2 separate regions of the Homo sapiens genome follow, and region 2 is linked to region 1. The links come from fine-mapping of genetic effects on gene expression. A gene starts in region 1. The other region holds a variant in brackets. All regions are shown on one strand. Distances are from middle to middle. Region 1 holds the start of TRPM6 (transient receptor potential cation channel subfamily M member 6). Region 2 overlaps TRPM6 (transient receptor potential cation channel subfamily M member 6).

Evidence for each region. PIP is the estimated chance that this variant, and not a neighbour inherited with it, causes the effect.
Region 2: its variant is fine-mapped to the expression of TRPM6 in whole blood (TOPMed, PIP above 0.99).

Annotation. Positions count from the first base shown.
Region 1 is chr9:74,881,781-74,893,378 of GRCh38, forward strand. TRPM6 (transient receptor potential cation channel subfamily M member 6) reads right to left here and starts at 6,141. Exons shown (of 39, transcript NM_017662.5): 1 at 6,044-6,141. The coding sequence starts at 6,076. RefSeq lists an enhancer at 5,233-5,527.
Region 2 is chr9:74,857,194-74,868,791 of GRCh38, forward strand. TRPM6 (transient receptor potential cation channel subfamily M member 6) reads right to left here. Exons shown (of 39, transcript NM_017662.5): 2 at 1,476-1,555. It also overlaps the pseudogene RNU6-445P. Among named protein-coding and RNA genes, the nearest start is that of TRPM6, 25 kb to the right of the region's middle. The variant T/C (reference allele first, on the strand shown) is at 4,780.

The DNA.
Region 1 (11,598 bases):
AACTTTGGAAACTGTACAAAAGTATTCTTATAGCTATAGTAACCAAAACAGCATGCTATTGGTATAAAAAGACACATAGACCATTGAACAAAATAGAGAACACAGAAGTAATTCCACATTTTTACAGCTAACTGAATTTTGACAAAGGCATCAAGAACATACATTGGTTACAGGACATCATCTTCAATAAATCATGCTGGGAAAACTGGATATTTATATGCAGCAGAATGAAACTGAACTCCTATCTCTCACCATATACAAAAATCAACTCAAGATGCATTAAAGACATAAATGCAAGACTTCAACTATAAAGATACTAGAAGAAAATATAACGGAAACACTTCAGGACATTGATCTAAGCAAAGATTTTGCAGCTAAGACCTCATAAGCACAGACAACAAAAACAAAAGTACACAACTGATTCAGTGCTTCTTGGTTGGTTAAAAAGAAAAAAGAGAAACAAAAATACACAAATGAGACCATGTTAAACTAAAAAGTTTCTGCACAGTGAAGGAAACAATCAACAAAATGAAGAGACAATCTGTTGAGTTGGAGAAAATATCTGCAAACTATTTATTTGACAGGGGACTAATATCCAGAATATTAAAAGAACTCAAACAACTCAACAGTAAACACAAAACAAATAAGCCCACTGAAGAGTGGGCAAAGGACATGAATCAACGTTTCTCAAACGAATACATACAAACAGCCAACATGCATATGAAAATATGCTCAACATCACTAATCAGCAGTAAAATGCAAATCAAAACCACAATGAGATATCATCTCGCTCCAGTTAAAATGGTTATCATAAAGAAGACAAAAATTAACAAATACTGGCAAGGATGCAGAGAAAGGAGACCCTCATACACTGTTGATAGGAATGTAATTTAGTACAGCCGTTATGGAAAACAGTAATGGAGGTTCCTCCAAAAACTAAAAATGGAATTACCATTCAATCCTGCATTCCCACTACTGAGTATTCATCCAGCTGAAAGCAGATTCAACCACCTATTCAAAGTATAAGACAAAGCCCACTACAAAGGAGTCTGTGTGAGAATCTCTTTTTCCATTTTTGTTTTAATTGTGGTAAAATATATAATGTAAAATTTACCATCCTAACCATTTTTAAGTGTGTAGCTCAGTTTTGCTAAGTATATTCACATTGTTGTGCGGCCAATCTCCAGAACTTTTTCATCTCGAAAAACTGAAACTCTATACCCATTAAACAACTAAACATTTCCCCTCCCCTAGCCCTGCCAACCATAATTCCACTTTTTGTTTGTATGAATTTGATTTCTATAGATGCCTCATAAGTGGAATCATACAGTATTTATCTTTTTGTGACTGGTTTATTTTACTTAGCATTATGTCCTCAAGGTTCATCCATGTTGTAGCATGTGTCAGAATTTCCCTCCATTTTAAGGCTGAATAATATTCCCTTGTGTATATATGCCATATTTTGTTTATCCATCCAGAAAATCTATTTCTATGTCAGTGGTATTGTTCTGTTGGTCTGGTGGCACAACAGGTATTTAGCTCAATTTTTAATGATTGTGATTTTATACCAAGAGAAAAAGAGATGTGATTGTATATTTGCACTCTAGGAAAGGAAAACCAAATTAAAGCTGAAACTGAGCTCAGTTTCATCGAGAAGCATCTCACTATCCCTTTCTATCTCAAAAATAAAAGTTTTATTCACTGTATATTCCCAGATTCTGGAAGACAGTTTGGCACATAACACTCGGTCAGTATTTGTGACTGATTGTGAAGAGAAAATGCTATACCTATGATCTTGATCACTCCAGTTCATCTGAACATACTATTCAAGAAGGCACTAATGTGTATTGACATGGAAAAATCTACAGGAACTACTGTTAAGTGAAACAAGTTACAGATCAATATATACAATATGATTCAATTTATTTAAAAACACATGCAAAGCCAGGCACGGTGTCATGTGCCTGTAATCCCAGATACTTGAGAGGTTGAGGTAAGAGGATCCTTTGAGCTCAGGAGTTCAAGACTAGCGTGGGCAACATAGTAAGATTCCATCTCAATAAAATAAAATTAAATTAAAATAAATAGATCGGGTGCAGTGGCTCATGCCTGTAATCCCAGCACTTTGGAAGGCCGAGGTGGGTGGATCACCTGAGGTCGGGAGTTCGAGACCATCCTGACCAACATGGAGAAACCCTGTCTCTACTAAAAGTACAAAATTAGCTGGGCATGGTGGCACATGCCTGTAATCCCAGCTACTTGGGAGGCTGAGGCAGGAGAATCGCTTGAACCTGGGACGCAGAGGTTGTGGTGAGCCAAGATTGTGCCATTGCACTCCAGCCTGGGCAACAAGAGCAAAACTCCATCTCAAAAAATAAAGTAAATAAATAAATAAATGCACAAATCAAAATAATAAATACATATGTATGGCCAGGCACAGTGGCTCACACCTATAATCCCAGCACTCTGGGAGGCTGAGGTGGGCAGATCACGAGGTCAAGAAATCAAGACCATCCTGCATAACAGGTGAAACCCCGTCTCGACTAAAAATACAAAAAATGAGCCGGGCGTGGTGGCGGGTGCCTGTAGTCCCAGCTACTCGGGAGGCTGAGGCAGGAGAATGGTGTGAACCCAGCAGGCGGAGCTTGCACTGAGCTGAGATCGTGCCACTGCACTCCAGCCTGGGAGACAGAGCGAGACTCTGTCTCAAAAATAAATACATATATACATACATACATACATACATACATACATACATACATACGTATATAAAAGCACATCTAAATAATATGCTCCAAATCAACAGTTTGATTACCTCTGGGTCAGAGGGGGAGTAGTTGAGGGGTAGAAAGGGAACTTTCTATTTGGATTTCTATTTGTAGTATTTGAATTATTTACAACAAGAAATTATTTTTATATTGTTAGTGACAAAGTTTTTAAGGGAAAAACATCTGGAGAATTATTTTCTGTGATACACAATCAAGGAAAAAAACATATTCAATTCTGTTTACCTTACATGTACCTTTTCTTAGAAAGCTACTGGAGAATGTGCTCCATCAAAATGATAGAAGAAATCAAAAAAGACTAAGGTGTGGGATATAGGAAACAGGAGCCAGCATAACAGAGATGCAAAGTGAATCAGTCCCCAAATGATGGTGAAGAGAGAGCCCAAGGTAATAGCTGTGCATCAAACATCAAGAGCAACCAGTCTGGACTGGCAAAGCAGGTAAGAAAGCTGTGATAGAAATAAAATTGATTCAAATAGCTGTTGCATTGGACATCTTGAGGGAAGATTTAGACAACTAACAAAGAACTTGTGGTTAAATTGGTGAAAACTTTGCAAACACAGAGAGACAACTCTGGAAAAAAACAAGGAAGAAAGCTTTTAATAGCATGTAGGGAGGCATAATAATGTTGACCTAACTAAATATTGACCTAACCAAAAATTATGAGATAACTATATTCAGAGGATCTATGGAAGGAATAGGTAGGATGCATGTAAGTGGTAGTGGCAGGAAAACAGAAAAGAGTTAAATCCACACATTTCTTGCAGGAAAGTCAATGCATGATGACTAAACCTCAAAAACCAAGAAGGAGCAATTATAAGGAATATCTAGAGATACAGACAAATAGTAACTAGTTAAAAGAGATGAACATGATTACTTCTCTTAAAAAGCAGGAAGTGATGGAGGGTTCTACTGTTTTTAGATATTAACCCTATGGAATTAATTGATTCTGAACAATGAGAACGTAAAACTTCAATAAAACTAAGAAGTAAAGAAAAAAGGCACTAGTGAGACTCACATCATAATATCTTACCTAACAGTGATGGATTTTACAGAAAATAGTTGCCATGTAGACTTCTGATGTGTCACAAAGGAATAACTGAGTTATAGGTAGGATGGTCACTTTCAGTTCCAGCATGGTATTGATTCTACCAGAAGTATAATGAAAATCACTCAGATTATTTGGGCTGTTTATACTGAAAACTCATGATTTAAAACACAGTGAGGCCAGGCACAGTGGCTCAGGCCTGTAATCTTGGCACTTTGGGAGGCCAAAGAGGATTGCTTGAGCCCAGGAGTTCAAGACCAGTCTGGGCAACACAGCGAGACTCTGTCTCAAAAAAATAAAATAAAATAAAAAGTGAGAAATTTGAAAAAGAAGGAAAAAGAGAGAAGCCATATTTCAGGCACAGTATTTACCAAATGCTTGATAGTTTTGGCATAGATGTCCTATCCAAAAAATTAACTATGATAGATAATTGTAAATAGGCAAGATAAGACCAAAATTTGTGACAAATTGCAACATATTGCACGATTCTTTCCCTTCACCTCTGGTATAATGATCTCAAATGCTATTCATGCCCTTGTCTATCAAGACAAGTTTAACACTACCAAAGGGTACTAGTCTCCAGTTTTGGCCCAAAAAACAAAACTCATGCTAACTCCTACCCTAGATGGTTACCACTCCTGGTGGGAAACATAAGAAACAACCAGATTCTTAAAGTCAAGCCCAGATTCCAGTCTGGCCAAAATAGCTAACGCTTTATCAGTCCTGTAAGAACCCAAAGCAGATGACAGTGAAACATCAAAATCTGTATACAGGGGGAAAGAAATTGAATAACTCGTTTCCCACTTTAACAATTAAAGGTGATCATTTCTCCCTAGAACAAATAATCACAAATGATGTGTATGACTAGAACATCTATGTTCTCAGTGTCTTTTTTTCTCTTTTTTTTTTTTCTTTTTTATGTTCTCCGTGTCTTAAAGCACTGACCTGAGTTCAAATCTCAAATCTGCTTTTCTCCTTTGGTTTCATTTTCCTCACCTGTAAACCGGTGGAGATGGGAGAGACAGGATACTTGGACTTTATAGGATTACTGCCAGGATGAAATAGTTAAGAATCCCAAACTCTTACAACCTGCTAAATACGTCAGGCATTATTCTAAGTGCAAATGGCATGTAGCATTTCAATTCATCTTGAAACTACAAATCGTATTATCCCATTTTCCAGATGAGAAAGCCGAAGAACAGATGTTAACTCGCCCAAAATCACAGGTAGTGATGCAGCTGGGATGCTAATTCAGGCTACCTGGCTCCAGAGCATATGTTCTTATCAGAGCAGGCTGAAATGAGCTAACGTTTGCTAAGCTGCCTGGACTATTCCTGAAATACAATGTGCTCAATTATACTTATTTTTCATACACAGTGTGAGAAAGTCCAGACAAAATAGGCGAGACCAAGAAATTACCAGGATCTCCACTACTCTCCCAAGCGTCTCCAGTGCTCTCCCAACAGCCAGGAGCACCCTCCCTCTCCAAGCCCCCAGAACTTCCTGTTGCGCCATATGCCAGCGGTGGAGAGGAGCCAGCGGGGACTCCTGAGGTTGCAAGTCCGGGCGGCGCCGCGTTGGGGAAGGAAGCGGACTGCGGCGGGGCGGGTGTTTACCGTAACCGGCGCTGTCATCGCTCCGGGACTCCTGCACGGGGAACACTGGGCGCACGGGGACGCGCAGGGGCGCGGAGGGACGGCCGTCTGGGCACTTCTCCAGCCGCCTCGGAAAGCCGCGACCCCCGGCTAGTCAGCGTCCGGGTCTGAGATCTGTGCCCGTGGCAGCTCAAAACGCGCCTTCTCTCCTCCGGATTCTCAGCTCAAGCCACCTCCGAACTCCTCTCCCTCCGGCCCGGAGCGGAATCAGAGCTGCCTCCTCTCCCGGGGTGTTTCCCACCGCCCCGAGCTGAACCCCCGACCCCCGCTAGGTTTCCGCTCTGACACCACCTCCGCTATGGCCGCATCCCAGCTCTTGAAACGGGGGCTGCGGGACCTGCCCTGTAGTAGCGTACACTACCTTAGATAGGATAATCATCTTTGGGTGGAGACCAGAGAACTTGAAAGCCGGTATTTCATAAATCCTAGCTATTCTAGATCCTCGTTAGATGTAGTGTCCCTGGCCCCACCCACTTCTATCTAAGGCCGGGGGCGCAGATCTAGCGAATCGCCTAAGGTCCTTGTTCCCCGCCAGTCGAGCAGCCTGAGCTTACCTGCAAGCGCTCCAAGACAGGTTGTTCTTTCATCTTTGATTTGCAGGCCCTGCTCCCAAAGCCCTGTCTGAGCTTTTAACTGTGGAGGCAGAAACTCTGGGCTCCACCTCCACACGCTGCCTTTTACAGCCCAGTGGATCTGTCACAATACCTTTCGGCTTCAGTTACCTAACTGCCTAGAAAAGAAGGTGACTCTCAGTTTCCTTCGATAAAAGAAGAATAACGAGGATCAAATGGGATGGCCACTGTCATCACAGACATCCTTTGTAGTAATGTATTGTTACTGTTGAGTCAGTGTGGGGCGTGAGGAGATCAGAGATTTAAGCTAACGCACTGCTTTTACTACCTGTGACTTATTGGGCATGTCAAGCCTCAGTTTATTTATCTATGCAATGGGAATAATAGGGACAAAAATCCAGTTCCCTCACAAGGTTACAATGAACAAAGGAAATCACTTAATGTGCTTCATGTGTAACATACAATACAAATGTTTTGTTATTTCTGGTTTTTTTTTCATTTTTTTTGTTTGTTTTGTTTTGTTTTGGTGGATTCCTCTGGATAGGCATCTTCTCTTTCTTTCTTTCTTTCTTTCTTTCTTTCTTTCTTTCTTTCTTTCTTTCTTTCTCTCTTTCTTTCTTTCTTCTTTTTTTAGAGATGGAGTCTTGCTCTGTTGCCCAGGCTGGAGTGCAGTGGCAGGATCATGGCTCACTGCATCCTTGACCTCCCAGGCTCAAGTGATCCTTCCACTTCAGGCTCCAGAGAGTAGTTGGGACTACAGGCACACACCACAGTGCCTGGCTAATTTTATTTATTTATTTATTTATTTATTTATTTATTTATTTATTTATTTTAGAAATGGGGTCTCACTATGTTGCCCAGGCTGGTCTCAAACTCTGGACTCAAGCGATCTTCATGCCTCAGCCTTCCAGAGTGCTAGGATTACAGGCGTGAGCCACCATGCCCGGCCTAGGCAGTCTTGATTAAGGTTGTGGTCAGTGATTTGGGGTGGATCCCAGGGTGTTGGCAGAGGTGGCACAAAGCACACAGGCAAAATGATGCTCACATTATTACAAGTGTAATTAACAATGCTAGTCATTCATCCCTGACAACCGACTTAAAATTAGGGACACCTACTCATTTAGTTTATTATGAATTTTTGCCTGGTGAATTCACATTTGCAGACAGTTTACAGGTTTTTTCCCCTCATTTCTCAATGTGGTTTTAATAAGCATTTCTTTGTTTATTGGAAAATTGTAATCTCTCATATGTGTATTGGCATTTTGTTGTTTTTCTTTTTGTTGTTGTTGCTGTTGTTGTTGAGCCAGGGTCTCGCTCTGTCACCGGGCTGGAGTGCAGTGGCACTATGTCGGCTCACTGCAACCTCCACCTCCTGGGCTCAAGCAATCCTCCAGCCTCAGCCCCCGCAAGTAGCTAGGACTACATGTGCAAGCCACTACACCTGGCTAATTTTTGTAATTTTTGTAGATACGGAGTTTCACCATGTTGCCCAGGCTGGTCTCGAACTTCTGAACTCAAGCAATCCACCCACTTCAGCCTCCCTAAGTGCTAGGCATTTGTTGTTCTTCTATAAACACATTTAATCTCCTTTCCTCTCCTTAACCCATCTTCTTTAAAGCGTTAATCTGTAAACAGTTAACAGGTTCTGAAAGCTCTTCTAAGGCAAGTAAATCCTTCTCGATCTCTGTCTTCCATACAATTTCTTTGTTAGGTCTCTTACAGTGACTGGGTCAGAGAGTTCTCAGAAATCTTCAGACCCACCAAGAAGAGTAGCCATTTGGAACTCAAGATTTGTAAGAAGTCTACCATCTTCTAGTTTACCATCTTTGGTAAACCTACATGTTAGGATGATCATATATTCTTTTCAGATCAAGCTTCAAGGCATTTAGAGCCTGAAATACAAGGGCAATGTGAAGTGCTTAAAGCATTGAATGTACTAGTTTACAAGCTGCCTTTGGTTCCCAAGCTGTATCAGAAACATCTGAGGCATTTGTCAAAAGTGCAGATTCCCAGGCTCCAACCACCCTACCCAGATCTCTTGTATCAGGATTTATAGGGTGGGGCCCAGGAATCTGTATCTTTCACAAGCACTTTAATCAGTTGTCAAACTTGTATATAAAACTTCTTGTCCAGGCATGGTGGCTCATGCCTGTAATCCCAGCATTTAGGGAGGCCGAGGCAGGAGAATCACTTGAACTCATGATTTCGAGACCAGCCTGGTCAACATGGCAAAACCCCATCTGTACAAAAAAAAAAAACAAAAATTAGCCACGCGTGGTGGCTTACACTTGTGGTGCCAGCTACTTGGATGGCTGAGGTGAGAGGATTGCTTGAGCCCAGGAGGTCGGGGCTGCAGTGAGCTATGATGGCACCACTGCACTCCAGACTGGGCAACAGAGTAAGACCATATCTCAAAAAATAAATAAATAAAAAGAAAACTATTCTGGGCACAAACATACCTATGCCCAGGGTAGCTGTGAAAATTAAATTTTAAAATATTCATTAGTAGTCTAGTGTGGTTTGATTCAGGCCAACAAATATTTCCTGAACATAGACTGTTTGTCAGGCATCATGCTGGGCACCAGGAAAACAAAGATGAATAAGACATTGTCCAGTCTACAAGTAGCTCAAGTTTATAAGAGGAAGATGAACAATCAAAAATGAAACTGGGAAGAGGTGGAGCAAGAAGGTGGAATAGAAGGCCCCGATCATCCCCTTTGTAGGAAAACCAAATTCAACAACTATGTACGCACAAAAAAAGCACCTTTCTAAGAACCAAAAATCAGGTGAGCACTCACAGTAACTGGTTTTAACTTCATATTACTGGAAGAGGCACTGAAGAGGTAGGAAAGAGAGTCTTTTTTATTTTTAACTTTTATTTTAGGTTCAGGGGTACAGTGCAGGTTTGTTTTATAGGTAAAGTCATGTCATAACAATAGCCAATAGTTATTTTTTCTGATCCTCTCCCTCATCCCACCCTCCACTCTCAAGGAGGCCCTAGGGTCTGTTCTTCCCTCTTTGTGTCCATGTGTTCTCATCATTTAGCTCACAGTGAGCTTGTAAGTGAGAACATGCCATATCTGGTTTTCTGTTCCTGCATTTGCTAAGGATAATGGCCTCCAGCTCCATCCATTTCTTGCAAAATATATGATCTTGTTCTTTTTTATGGCTGTATGGTATTCCCCGGTGTATATGTACCACACTTTTTAAATCCAATCTGCCATTGATGAGATTTAGGTTGATTCTATGTCTTTGCTATTGTGAATAATGCTGGAGTGAACATACGTGTGCATGTGTCTTTATGGCACAACAATTTATGTTTCTTTGGGTATATACCCAGTAATGGGGTTGCTGGGTTTAGTGATTGTTCTGTTTTTAGCTCTTTGAGGAACCACCACACTGCTTTCCACAATGGCTGAACTAATTTACACTCCTACCAACAGTCTATAAGAGGAAAGTCAGTATTGAATTGTGGATGCTACCCCTTCCCCACCCATCCACAGCAGCCACTTGGCATGGAGAAATCTGTGTGATTGGGAGAGGGAGAAAGCAGCGGTTGTGAGGCTTTGCATTGAACTCAGTGCTGCCTTGTCACAGCAGAAAGCAAAACCAGGCTGAACTCAGCCAACGCCTGCCCACTGAGAGAACATTTAGACCAGCTCTAGATAGAGAGGAATCATCCATCCCAGCAGTCAGAACTCAAGTTCCAGCAAGCCTCGCCACACCACAGACTGGAGTGCTCTGAGGCTCTAAATATTCTTGAAAGGCAGTTTAGGCCACGGGAACTGTAAATCCTAGTGCTGAGCTGGGCTCAGACCAAGTGGACTTGGGGGGCGTGTTACCTACTGAGACACAAGCTAGGACAGCTAAGGGGGTGCTTGTGCCACCCCTCCCCCATCCCCAGGCAACACAGCTCCTGCCAAAAGAGACCTCCTTCTTCCACTTGAGGAGAGGAGAAGGAAGAGTAAAGAGGGCTTTGTCTTGCACCTTGGATACCAGCTCAACCACAGTAAGACAGGGCACCGGTCAGAGTCATGAGGCCCCCATTCCAGGCCCTAGGTCCCAGATGACATTTCCAGACACACCCTGGGCCAGAAAGGAACCCACTCCCTTGAAGGGAGGGACCCAATCCTGGCAGGAACCATCACCTGCTGGCTAAAGAGTGTTTGGGTCCTGAGTAGCCAGCAGTGATACCTAGGCAGTATGCCGTGGACCTTGGGTGAGACTCTGAGAGGTGCTGGCTTCAGGTGAGATCCAGCACATTCCCAGCTCTGGTAGCTACAGTGAGAGACTCCATCTACTTGAGAAAAGCAGAGGGAAAAGTAAAGGGGACTTTGTCTTGTACCTTAGGCACCAGCTAGCCACAGTAGGGTTGAGCACCAGGCAGGCTCTTGGGGTCCCTAATTCCAGACCTTGGCTCTTGGACAGCATTTCTGGACCTGCCCTGGACCAGAGGAGAGCCCACTGCCCTGAAGTATGAGTCCCAGGCCTGGCAGCGTTCACCACAAGCTGACTTCAGAGACCTTGGGCCTTAAGTGAACATCAGCAGTAACCTGGCAATACTCCTCATGGGCTTGTGGTGGTGGTGGCCATGGGATGAAGCTCCTCTGCCTGTGGCAAGTTGAAGGAAGAATGAGAAGGGCTGTGTCTCATGGTTTGAGGCCCAGCTTAGCCACAGTAGAATAGAACAGGTAAACTTCTAAGGTTTTCGACTCTAGTCTCTAGCTGCCAGTCAGCATCTCTGGACCCACCCAAGGCCTGGGGGAATTCACCACCCTGAAAGGAAGGACACAACCCTGGCTGGCTTCATCACCTGCTGATTGCACAGCCCTAGGATCATGAGTAAACATAAGCAGTAGCCAGGTAGTGGTTACAGTGGGACTCGGGCAAGACCCAGTGCTGTGCTGGCTTCTGGTCTGACCCAGAGCAGTCCCAGTGGTGGTGGCCACAAGGGTGCTTACATCACTCCATACCCAGCTCCAGGTAGCTCAGCACAGAGATAGAGAGACTCCATTTCTTTGGGAGAAAGTAAGAGAAGCTAACAGGAGTCTCTACCTGGTAATCCAGAGAATTCTTCCAGATCTTATCCAAGACCACCAAGGCAGTACTGTTAGGAGTCTGCAAGAACCACAGCATTACTGGGCCTTGAGTGCCTCCTAATGCAAATACAGCTTAGATTATAACACCCAAATCCTTTTGAATTCCTGGAAAGCCTTCCCAAGGACAAATACAAACAAGCCCAGACTGTGAAGACTACAATAAATACTTAACTCTTCAATGCCCAGACACTGATGAATATCATCCACAGGCATCAAGACCATCCAGGAAAACATGACCTCACCAAATTAACTAAGGCACCAACAACCAATCTTGGGAAAACAGAGATATGTGAGTTTTCAGACAGAGAATTCAAAATAGCTATTCTGGGAAACTCAAAGAAATTCAAGATAACACACAGAAGTAATTTAGAATTCTGTCAGATAAATTTAACAAAGAGATTGAAATAATTTTTAAAAAATCACTGACTGCAGTAGCTC
Region 2 (11,598 bases), 25 kb before region 1:
GCAGGTAAAAAGAGAATTTCCAATCACAAGACTTACAAATCATAGGTAATTCAATAAGGGTGGGACTAGTAAATATTTAACAAAGGCAAAGAACACTATTTCAGTCATCTCCAAAGAACTAGAATTTCAAAAACCTTACCTTGCTACCCTTCATAACACATAGTTATGAGTTCTAAACCTTAAAGGCATATAAGGACAAATGCCCAAAAAAATCTAAAAATAGGTTGGTTCCTTTACTTAAAATATTACTCTTCTATTTTCCTTTTAATTAATTTTTCCAAGGGCAATGTCAATCTTAATTTCACAGACCTGATTACCCAGAGGAATTTTCCATAGCCCTTTCTTCCCCTATCTTTCACTAGTTGCTTTTTTGACCTTTGTTTTACAAGTAGAGCTTCCAAAGCATTGTCAAGAACTCAGTAGTCAAACTCAAATTATTCCATTCTGCTACCGATTATCTGCTCAATCCAAAAGCCTATGGGCGCTCACTTCGGTAGCACACATATTAAAATTGGAATGATACAGAGAAGATTAGCATGGCCCCTGCTCAAGGATGACATGCAAATTCATAAAGCATTCCATAAAAATAAAGTCTATGGAAGGAAAACGGAACTGAAATTACCTGTTCATCTAATCTGGGCACAGTGTACTTAAATATACCAGTCACTATTTTCCACAGATACTTTAGTTGGGGATAAGAAACATTCACAATATTTTGAATATTCAGTATTCAGAAAATGTAATTTATTGATTCCAACCCACTGAAATGGATGTAACACTAGATATTTCTGTAACGTCTATCCTCCCATCAAGAGGAACAGAAGAATCAAGTAGAATGAAATCCACGACAATATTAACAGTGACGGCATTAAGAATAACTTCTTTGTACTTCATTAAATTCCTTAAACAGATATTTATCGCTCGGTGGCTCACGCCTGTAATCCCAGCACTTTGGGAGGCCGAGGTGGGTGGATCACGAGGTCAGGAGATTGAGACCATCCTGGCTAACACGGTGAAACCCTGTCTCTACTAAAAATACTAAAATTAGCCGGACGTGGTGGCAGGTGCCTGTAATCCCAGCTACTCGGGAGGTTGAGGCAGGAGAATCACTTGAACCCAGGAGGTGGAGGTTGCAGTGAGCTGAGATTGCGCCACTGCACTCCAGCCTGGAGGACAAGAGCGAGACTTCGTCTCAAAAAAACAAAAACACAGATATTTATCAAGAGCCTACTATGTGGCAGGCACTGTCACAGACACTGGAGTAAGAGTAAGGTAAAAATGGACAAGGTCCCTGTTCTTCCCAGATTTTCTACAATAATCATGTATTATTTTTATAAAGTGAAAGAAATAAACATTGAAAATTCTAACTTTATAGATATGATCAAAACTTCTAAACAAGTCATATTTCTAAGTTTCTATAAATAGTCCATCAGGTAGTGTTGCTTTTAAAAGAAGAAGGTAATTGAAAATTTTACCTGTGAGGATTTTTTGAGCTGGGTATGATTGTGCTACATTCTCTCTTGTCAAATACTCCTTTAATCCAGGATTTCTGGGACTAAAAAGAAAGTGTCATTATTTTATACTCTAATTATGTGACAAAACAATGTAACCATAGTAGTTCCTGCAGGTAAGAAATACTCAAGTATCATGAATGCTAATTAAAATGCCAAGACCAACCCCACACAGGCTAAGCATTTACCAGTTTCTATTACAGATAACATAGGCACAAATAAGCCAAATGTGAACATTAAACGACACGCAAAGTGAATATGCCCATAATCTCACTTTGAGTAACAAAAGCCCTACATGAACAAACCCCTAGCAAGGAAGTAAAGATGTAACTGATATATCCTCTTAAATCTGCCAAAAGTCACTTTTATATCTTGTACCATAATCCTATGGAATAAATACCAAGCTCCCGAAACTTCAAAATTTTTACCCATCAAGTCCCACTTTGGCTAAGATTTCACAGGAAGCTGGAAAGAGTGTCAGAGAAGAGATGTGACTCAGCAAGATTCGATACACATTCTGCAAGCATAGTTTTACCATTGGGTGTGTTGTTTCAGGTTGCACAGCCTAGAACTGTCCCTAAATCCAAGTGAGATGTTGATACTCACTCTTCCTCCTAATAAACTCTCTCCCATTCTACAGAATCCATATCATAGCCAAGCTCCTCCATAAGCTATATTACAAGTCCAGTGGCAGAGGACACTGGATGGACTATACATCCCAGCTACTTGTGAGTAGTTCTAATATAAAAATATTTTGGCTGTAAATGGTATAAGAATACGTGTCCTAGCTGGGCGTGGTGGCTCATGCCTGTAATCCCAACACTTTGGGAGGCCAAGGCGGGTGGACCACTTGAAGTCAGGAGTTCGAGACCAGCCTGGCCATCATGGTGAAACCCCGTCTCTACTAAAAATACAAAAAATTAGCTGGGCATGGTGGCAGGCAACTATAATCCCAGCTACTCAGGAGGCTGAGGCATGAGAATCGCTTGAACCTGGCAGGCAGAGATTGCAGTGAGCCGAGATTGCACCACTGCACTCTGGCCTGGGTGGCAGAGCGAGACTCTGTCTCAAAAAAAAAAAAAAAAGAATATGTGTCCATATTACTTTATACACACATAGATATTAGAACAGAGATGAAAGGAAGGCTTTCTAAAAGGGAGCTTTTTCAAACTCCACGTCAGTGCAGTCCCCACCTCACTCATATCTACTCCCATTCTACTGTGGAAGGAAATGCACTGGGCCAGAAAATATGCTACAAATCCAGCTGTGGTACCTCATTATCACACTATCCTCAAAAAAAGCTCAGTGGATCTTGTCCAACATGCACCAATCCTAAACGTAAGTGTTCATCACTGAACAGAACTGTAGATAATGGAAGTCCAGACTTTTTTAAGTAAAATAGAAAGGAGAAAAACAGAGATTAGTTGATGGGTTCCTGTGTATTTAAATCTTACCTATAAACAAGGAAAACTTCCCAGATCAAGGCCAGAGTCATCTTAAATCATTTTACTCTCTTATTCTTTTTGCATGCTCAGCAGCATTTTCTATGTATTAAAAGACATTCACTAAATTGGCAAAACACTAAAAAACTTGGGAAAACCCAGTCATACAATGTAATTATTTATTTATTTATTTATTTTTATTTTTTTATTTTTTTTGAGACGGAGTCTTGCTCTGTTGCCCAGGCATTCCAGCCTGGCTCACTGCAATCTGGCGCAATCTCGGCTCACTGAAACCACTGCCTCTAGGTTTCAAGCGATTCTCCTGCCTCAGCCTCCTGAGTAGGTGGGATGATAGGCATGCACCAGCATGCCTGGCTAATTTTTGTATTTTTAGTAGCAACAGGGTTTCACCACGTTGGTCAGACTGGTCTCAAACTCCTGAACTCAAGTTGTCTGCTTGCCTTGGCCTCCCAAAGTGCTGGGATAACAGGCATGAGCCACCACACCCAACCCAGAATCACAGAACTTAAAAGGAACTAAATGAACAGGGAATTCAAAATCTATATTTCAATAAGAAATGACACAATCCGGCTGAGCGCAGTGGCCAACACCTGTAATCCCAGCACTTTGTGAGGCCGAGGCAGGTGGATCACTTGAGCCCAGGACTTCCAGACCAGCCTGGGCAACATGGTGAAACCCTGTCTCTACAAAATACAGGAATAAAAACAGCCGTGCATGGTGGCATGTGCCTATAATTCCCAGCAACCCAGAAGGCTGAGGTGGGAGGATTGCTTAAGCCCAAGGAAGTCGAGGCTGCAGTGAGCCATGATTGTGCCACTGCACTCTAGCCTGGGCGACAGAGTGAGACCTTGTCACAAAAAAAAGAAAGAAAGAAAGAAAGAAATGACACTATCTTTTTGAATCAGTCAGCCCTGTCCCCTATTCAAAAACGTTAACAATTTCATTTATTCATTCTCCAAACATTTATTAAATACCTAATTTTTGCAAAGCACTGACAAACATGTTACAAAAAGTCAGTATGTCCTCAAAGAATTCTTCATTCTGAATTTCAAAATACCTGAATCTATGAATTCATTCAACAAATATTTTGAATAGGCCCCCACGCTGCATGCTGGGACTTCTATTGCAAACGAGACAAAGTTCCTGCTCTCAAGGAAGTTAGAATAAAAAGGAGGAAACAGATAAGAAACTGATATCATTAAACTTTATGTGCACCAATTAACTATTTTTTTAATTTTTTGTATTTTTCATGCCTCTGGGACAAGTTCAAGGCCAATTAACTATTAAAAACAGATGCTAAAAGGGTATCTAATGTAGAAGCCTGTATAGACAAAATAGGCAAGCTGTGCTCAACCATTCACTTCTTTCAAAATGCTGAATGGCAGCTTTGTAGTAGGACTACCTGAACAAATTATTCGATTTCTTCATGCCTGTTTGTCTATCAAAATGGGGATAATAATAGTACCTCATAGAACTATTGAAAGGATTAGATAAAGGTTTAGAATTCTTCCTGGGACTTATTAAGTCTGAATAAAGCTCAGGTATTATTACTAGCAATATTAAAAGTAAAAACTGGCTTTGGGTTAATGGTCTGGGAACTTAACTTTGATGTATTTTTTTTTTCATAGAATAATGCCTCCTGACCTCCAAATTTCCCTCACAGTTCCTCTCATACTATGATTTAATGACCTTTACAGGCTCACATCTTCCCTGGACTCCAACTCCTATAGGCCCCATGCCAGTCATTTCTATTGCCCCAGGGCCTAACCCAATGATTGTTGAATGAGCAACAAACATGCTGAAAA[T/C]AGAACTTCAGGAACCCATGTATACTATTTTCCCTCCAAAGGTGTAAACAGGAAGCCCGTGTCATAACAAGAATGTGGAAACTTTCCTCCTTCAACTCCGGTTATCTTATCTCAAAACTACCAGAAAAAAAAAAAAAAAAAAAAAGCAGCCTTTAGCTTGAAAATGTTTCAAATAATTCTCAATTTAGAACTTTACTTCCCACCCTGCCAACCTCGTAATAGTTCCTTTGCAATATACTCTCCAGCACACTTCCGAGAGGCCTCCATGTTCAGTTCAACAGAGAACCAAATGTTTGTTGGTTCTGATAGGACAAACACCAAGTGTGCTAGCTTCTGCCACTAGAGCAGCAAATTTGTTGTGGTCGTGGTAGTTGAGAGTAAGGATTTTGACATTTCTGCAGCTATCATGGCAGTCTTCATCGACTGGATGTTTTTTGCTTTTTAATTGTTGTAATTTAGGGGAGGGAAAGGCAAAGGAGAAAGAAGGGAAATGGTGTGTTGGTCTCAATTTGTGTCATCCTAAAACATAATCAGATTTTATATCTAATCTTTGGCCTGAGGTCAGGCTGGGGAATTGCAAAGAAATGTTCACAGACTAACATAGTGAGATACCTTGGGGAGGGATCCAAGTCTGAATGTGAAATTCATTTATGTTTCATATACATCTTATATGCACAGACAAAAGGTAATTTTACACAATATTTTTTAAAAATTTATACATAAAATTGTCCGGGTGTGGTGGCTCACGCCTGTAATCCCGGCACTTTGGGAGGCCAAGGCGAGCAAGTCACTTGAGGTCAGGAGTTCGAGACCAGCCTGGACAACATGGCAAAACCCCATCTCTACTAAAGATACAAAAATTAGCTGACGTGGTGTCGGGCGCCTATAGTCCCAGTTACTCAGGAGGCTGAGGCATGAGAATCACTTGAACCCAGGAGGCAGAGGTTGCAGTGAGCCGAGATCATGCCACTGCACTCCAGCCTGGGTGACAGAACAGGACTCTGTCTCTAAATAAATAAATAAATAGTTTTATGCATGAAACAAAGTTTTTTTGTTTTGTTTTGTTTTTTGTTTGGTTTTGTTTTGTTTTTTTGAGACGGAGTTTCTCTCGTTGCCCAGACTGGAGTGCAATGGCACGATCTCGGCTCACTGCAACCTCTGCCTCCCAGGTTCAAGTGATTCTCCTGCCTCAGTCTCCCAAGTAGCTGGGATTACAGGTTCCTGCCACCACATCGAGCTAATTTTTGTATTTTTAGTAGAGATGGGGTTTCACCATGTTGGCCAGGCTGGTCTCAAACTCCTGACCTCAAGTGATCCACCCGCCTCGGCCTCCCAAAGTGCTAGGATTACAGGCGTGAGCCACTGTGCATGACTGAAACAAAGTTTTAACTGCATTTCAACTGCCACCTGCCACATGAAGTCAGATGTGAAATTTCCCGCTTATGGCACTCAAAAAGTTTCAGATTTTAGAGCATTTCACATTTCAGATTTTCAGAGTAGGGATGTTCAAACTGTATTTCCACTTTATGGCTTTTTAGGGTTCCCAGATAAATTATCTTGGGGTACTCTCTGAGAAGGCATAATTTCACAGATGTTCCTTAATCTTCAAAAAAGTGACTTTTTTTTTGAGACGGAGTCTCGCTCTGTCTCCCAGGCTGGAGTGCAATGGCGCGATCTCGGCTCACTGCGAGCTCCGCCTCCCGGGTTTTACGCCATTCTCCTGCCTCAGCCTCCTGAGTAGCTGGGACTACAGGCATGCACCACCTACGCCCGGCTAATTTTTTTTTGTATTTTTGGTAGAGATGGGGTTTCACCGTGTTAGCCAGGGTGGTCTCGAACTCCTGACCTTGTTATCCGCCCAACTCGGCCTCCCAAAGTGCTGGGATTACAGGCATGAGCCACCGCGCCCGGCAACCTTTTTTTTTTTAAAAAAACATCCACAAGTTTGCATGATTGGAGGTAAAGGGAGACAAAGATAACAGGTCATTTGTTTTCTTTCTACAACTTTTTTGCACCTTAAAAAAAATCTATCATCTAACAACTACTTCTTCAGTGGAACTGATAACTGACTCCGATTTTGATTTCCTGCATTCTCTCTTACACACATCACAGCACTAACAATGTTTACTTGCATTCACTGGACCATCTCTCTCTCTCTCTTAACCTTATTGTAATCCACTTCAAAAGAGAGCATTATTTTATTTATCTTGGAATTCACAACACTAGAATGGGTCAAATAGACAATATTTTCAGACTCCAGATCAACATTTGTTATTTTTTCTTCAGAGTGCCTCCCTTGAAGCAAGAATCCCTTCAAAGTGCCAGGTAGATGGACATCAGGATGTACCATCAATCAATCTGTTGGCTCAGGGAATCCATCAGTGCAAAGCCAGCCCATCCACTTTCAAGTGTCAGCTCAGGGCCTTCTATCTGTCCAAATTCTGCAAGGATACCTACCTGACACTTGATCCGAGAGGGGCAGTCTCAGAAAAACAGCATCCAGGCTAAAAATATCTAAAAACCAAGTTCCTGTTCCACCAACACTACCAGAAAGTGTGTTGACTGATTTTCCACTAAATAGTCTGTCCAGGAGGCAGAGAACACAAAGTAACCTTACACCTTCATCTCACTTTGGTGGTAAAAGGTGAGCACTATTTAGCTGGTAGTAATTTATTTTTGGTAACATCTCTAAAAATTGAATGTCAACTAAATAATTCACAATTCCCTAAAACGCCATTTCTCCTGAGTAGTTGAGAAATTTTACTAACATTTTCACATAGTGCTTTGCTAAGCAAAGGCATTTAGAACCTTGGAATGAGGCCTGGTGCAGTGGCTCATGCCTGAATCCCTGTACTTTGGGAGGCTGAGGTGGGTGGATCACCTGAGGTCAGGAGTTCGAGACCAGCCTGGCCAACATGATGAAACCCTGTCTCTACTAAAAATACAAAAAATTAGCCACGCGCAGTCGTGGGCGCCTGTAATCCCAGCTACTCAGGAGGCTGAGGCAAGAGAATCGCTTGAACCCAGGAGGTGGAAGTTGCAGTGGGCTGAGATCGTGCCACTGCACTCCAGCCTGGGCAATGAGAGAGAAATTCCCTCTCAAAAAAAAAAAAAAAATGGAACGTCAGAATGAATTTCTAGATTATATAAACTCAAGAGTTAAGGAGTAAAACATTTATAAATCTTCCTGGAGCCAAATAGGGGATTAGAGGAACTCAACAGTAACCTTCCAAGTAAAGTGCATCAGAAAGGTGAAAAGTGAAGTGATATCATACCCCTTCCTTCCTCTTTCCAAATTGGTTGAAGCCCTCATTATTTCAGCCCCAAAACCCAATTTCAAAATAGCAGCGAAAGACATCCTTTTCCTCAGTTGTCACTCACGCTTCAGGGTTTAACCAGTCTCCTGGGGAATAAAACATGCAAATGAAACATTTATAATTTCAGATCTTGTTAAATCATTCTGATAAAAAGGGAAGAGGAAATGGAAGTCTCCTTTATGAGTGTACTTTACAACTGTCCCTCGATAGTAAAATACAGAGATTTAACCAAATGCTGGGCCTATTTGTAGTACAACCACTCTAATCTGGTTAGATTTTCCACCTACATGCACTCAATTCTCTCCAATTTCCAAGCTCCAAAATGCTCACAAATTTGTTATCTATGTACACAGATGGTCTTCATTTATGCTCCAAATATCTTGTTAAATTATCCAAAACTTTACTAGTACTACATGCAAATAAACTACATGACCTAAAATAAAGTCTTTTTTGGAGTGGCTCATGAAACTATGCTTTTATTTTTGTTTTAATACAGAGTCTTGCTATGTTGCCCAGGCTGAAGTGCAGTGGCTATTCACAGGCGTGATCACAGCACACTGTGGCCTTGAACTCCTAGGATCAAGTGATATTCCTGCCTCAGCCCCCTGAGAATCTGGGACTACAGATATGTACCACCATGACTGGGGAAAATATACTGTTAAATAATTGACTTTTAGGAAACTTACCAACCTCTCAGACAATAAAGCCTTTATTAGAAGTTACATGTTTGGCCAGGCATGGTGGCTCACGCCTAGAATCCCAGCACTTTGGGAGGCCATGGCTAGAGAATCATTGAGCCCAGGAGATCAAGGCCAGCCTGGGCAACATATCGAGACCCCGTGTCTACGTCCAATAATATAAAAAATAGAAACATTTTTAAAAAGAAGTTACAGGTTAAATTTTATTTATGACATTCATAGTAAGGTTTATATAGACAATGGAGATTATTTGTCTTATTTTTTTCAGTATAGCACAGCACAAAGAAGACACAACTGGATTTTGCTCCTTAAAATTTGGGGGACACTCATACCACGTGTGTAACTTAGACAAATTCAAAAGCTTTGCTAAAAGAATGAGAGAAGGCTAGAAGGTGAAAAATAAGACAGAGAGAAAAACAGTTTTAATAGTGTGGGCAGTTTCACTGTCATTCCACTATCAGTAGGTTTGATTTTTTTGGGGGGGTTTTTTGTTTTTTGTTTTTTTGTTTTTGAGACAGAGTTTCACTCTTGTTGCCCAGGCTAGAGTGCAATGGCGTGATCTCGGCTCACTGCAACCTCAACCTCCCAGATTCAAGCGATTCTCCTGCCTCAGCCTCTTGAGTAGCTGGGATTACAGGCATGCCCCACCACACCCGGCTAATTTTGTATTTTCAGTAGAGACAGGGTTTTACCATGTTGGCCAGGCTGGTCTTGAACTCCTGACCTCAGGTGATACACCCACCTCAGTCTCCCAAAGTGCAGGGATTACAGGCGTGAGCCACCGCATCCAGCCTCAGGAGTATCTTATTTCCAAAAGCAGCAGTTCTGAAACTTCTTGAGCTTAGGATCCTTTCATAATCATAAAAACTACCAAGTACTCCAAAAAGTATTTTGTTTATTTAAATTATGTCTACCAATATTTACCACATATGAAATTAAAACTGAGACATTTAAAAATATTTACTTATTAGTTCATTTTAACCTGTTACATGCTAACACAAAAATTTTCCAAAAAAGTTCATAAACAGAGCACTGTCTTATGTTTTTGCAAATCTCTTTCATGTCTGGCTAAAGATGGCTAAATTCTCATGTTTGCTTCTGCACTCAATCCTTTGCAATAAGTGGTTTTGCTTGAAGTATACAAAGAAAATCTGCCTCACAGAGACATGTAGTTGAAAAGGGAGAGTATTTTAATGGCCTTTTTAGATCATTGTGTATTCATCATGTACCCTTGGGAAAACTCCACTGTACACTCATGAGAAAATATGTCAAAAGGGCAAATAGCATCTTAGTACCATTATGAAAATAATTTTGACTCTGAGGACCCTCTGAAAAGGTCTTAGAGACCTCTAGGAGTCCTTGGACCACATACAGAGAACTACTGCACACAAGTGACTGTGTGTAGACACTAGAGTGGAGTCTGTGAGAGCAAGAATATACCATTCCCCAGATGGTCTCAGTTCCCACATGCATATCTTAGTCTGCATACCTCATCTTAATGAGTAGATTCTAGATCCCCTGTTTAATCTGGTACTCAACTGAAGAAAGTTCCAACACAAGATAAAATCTTCATGTACTGTATTTTATGCTCAATGAAAGGGACTTTTCAAGGGTAGTTTGGAATGCATTCAATTTCTAAACTTACAGCCAACTTTAATGCCTACCACACCCACCCTCCAGAAGATGTCGTTAAATTCAGTGACCTTGGGAAGCTTGCGAAGTGTGGAACCAGCCCTTTACAATCCATAGGCAGGATACATCCTATCAGTTTATCCACCTCTTTTAAAACATTGAAACCTCGAAAGGAAGAAACAAATGAAAAGAAAAATTGATACCTCTAAGAATAATAGGTTTATTCATTCATTTAAAAAAAAATACTTTGATGGCCAGACGCAGTGGCTCACGCCTGTAATCCCAGCACTTTGGGAGGCCGATGCACAGGGTCACGTGAGGTCAGGAGTTCCAGACCAGCCTGGCCAACATGGCGAAACCCCAACTCTATTAAAAACAAAAAAAATTAGCTGGGCATGGTGGCACAGGCCTGTAATCCCAGCTACTCAGGAGGCTGAGGCAGGAGAATCACTTGAATCCGGGAGACAGAGGTTGCAGTAGGCTGAGATTGCACCCCTGTACTCCAGCCTGACAGAGCGAGACTCCGCAAAAAAAAAAAAAACTTTGACACCTCATGTTATTCTAATTAAAATAAATAAAACAAAAAAGTGTCCCGCCGGGTGTGGTGGCTCACGCCTGTAATCCCAACACTTAGGGAGGCCGAGGCAGGTGGATCACCTGAGGTCAGGAGTTTGAGACCAGCCTGGCCAACATGATGAAACCCCATCTCTACTGAAAATACAAAAATTAGCTGGGCATGGTGGTGCATGCCTGTAATCCCAGCTACTCGGGAGGCTGAGGCAGGAGAATCATTTGAACCCAGGAGGTGGAGGTTGCAGTGAGCTGAGATCATGCCACTGCACTCCAGCCTGGTCGACAGAGCGAGACTCCATCTCAAAAAATAAAATAAAATAAAATAAAATAAAAAGTGTCCCAAATGCCACCAGCAAATGAGAAGCACTTATGTTAACAAATGGATACTAAGTAAGGAAGTGGGTCATAAATGTTACAATCGTAGGCAACAGGACACTAGTGAAGGAGAAATTCCTTCTGCCTGTAGATACTTGAGATGTTTTCATGGAAGACATGGAATTTATGAAAGTTCTTGAAAGACAACAAAGGTTTTAAAAGGTGGCGAGGGTGTCCATGGTGGTTAGAAACGTGGAGATTTCAGCCTAGAGGAAAATTTAGAA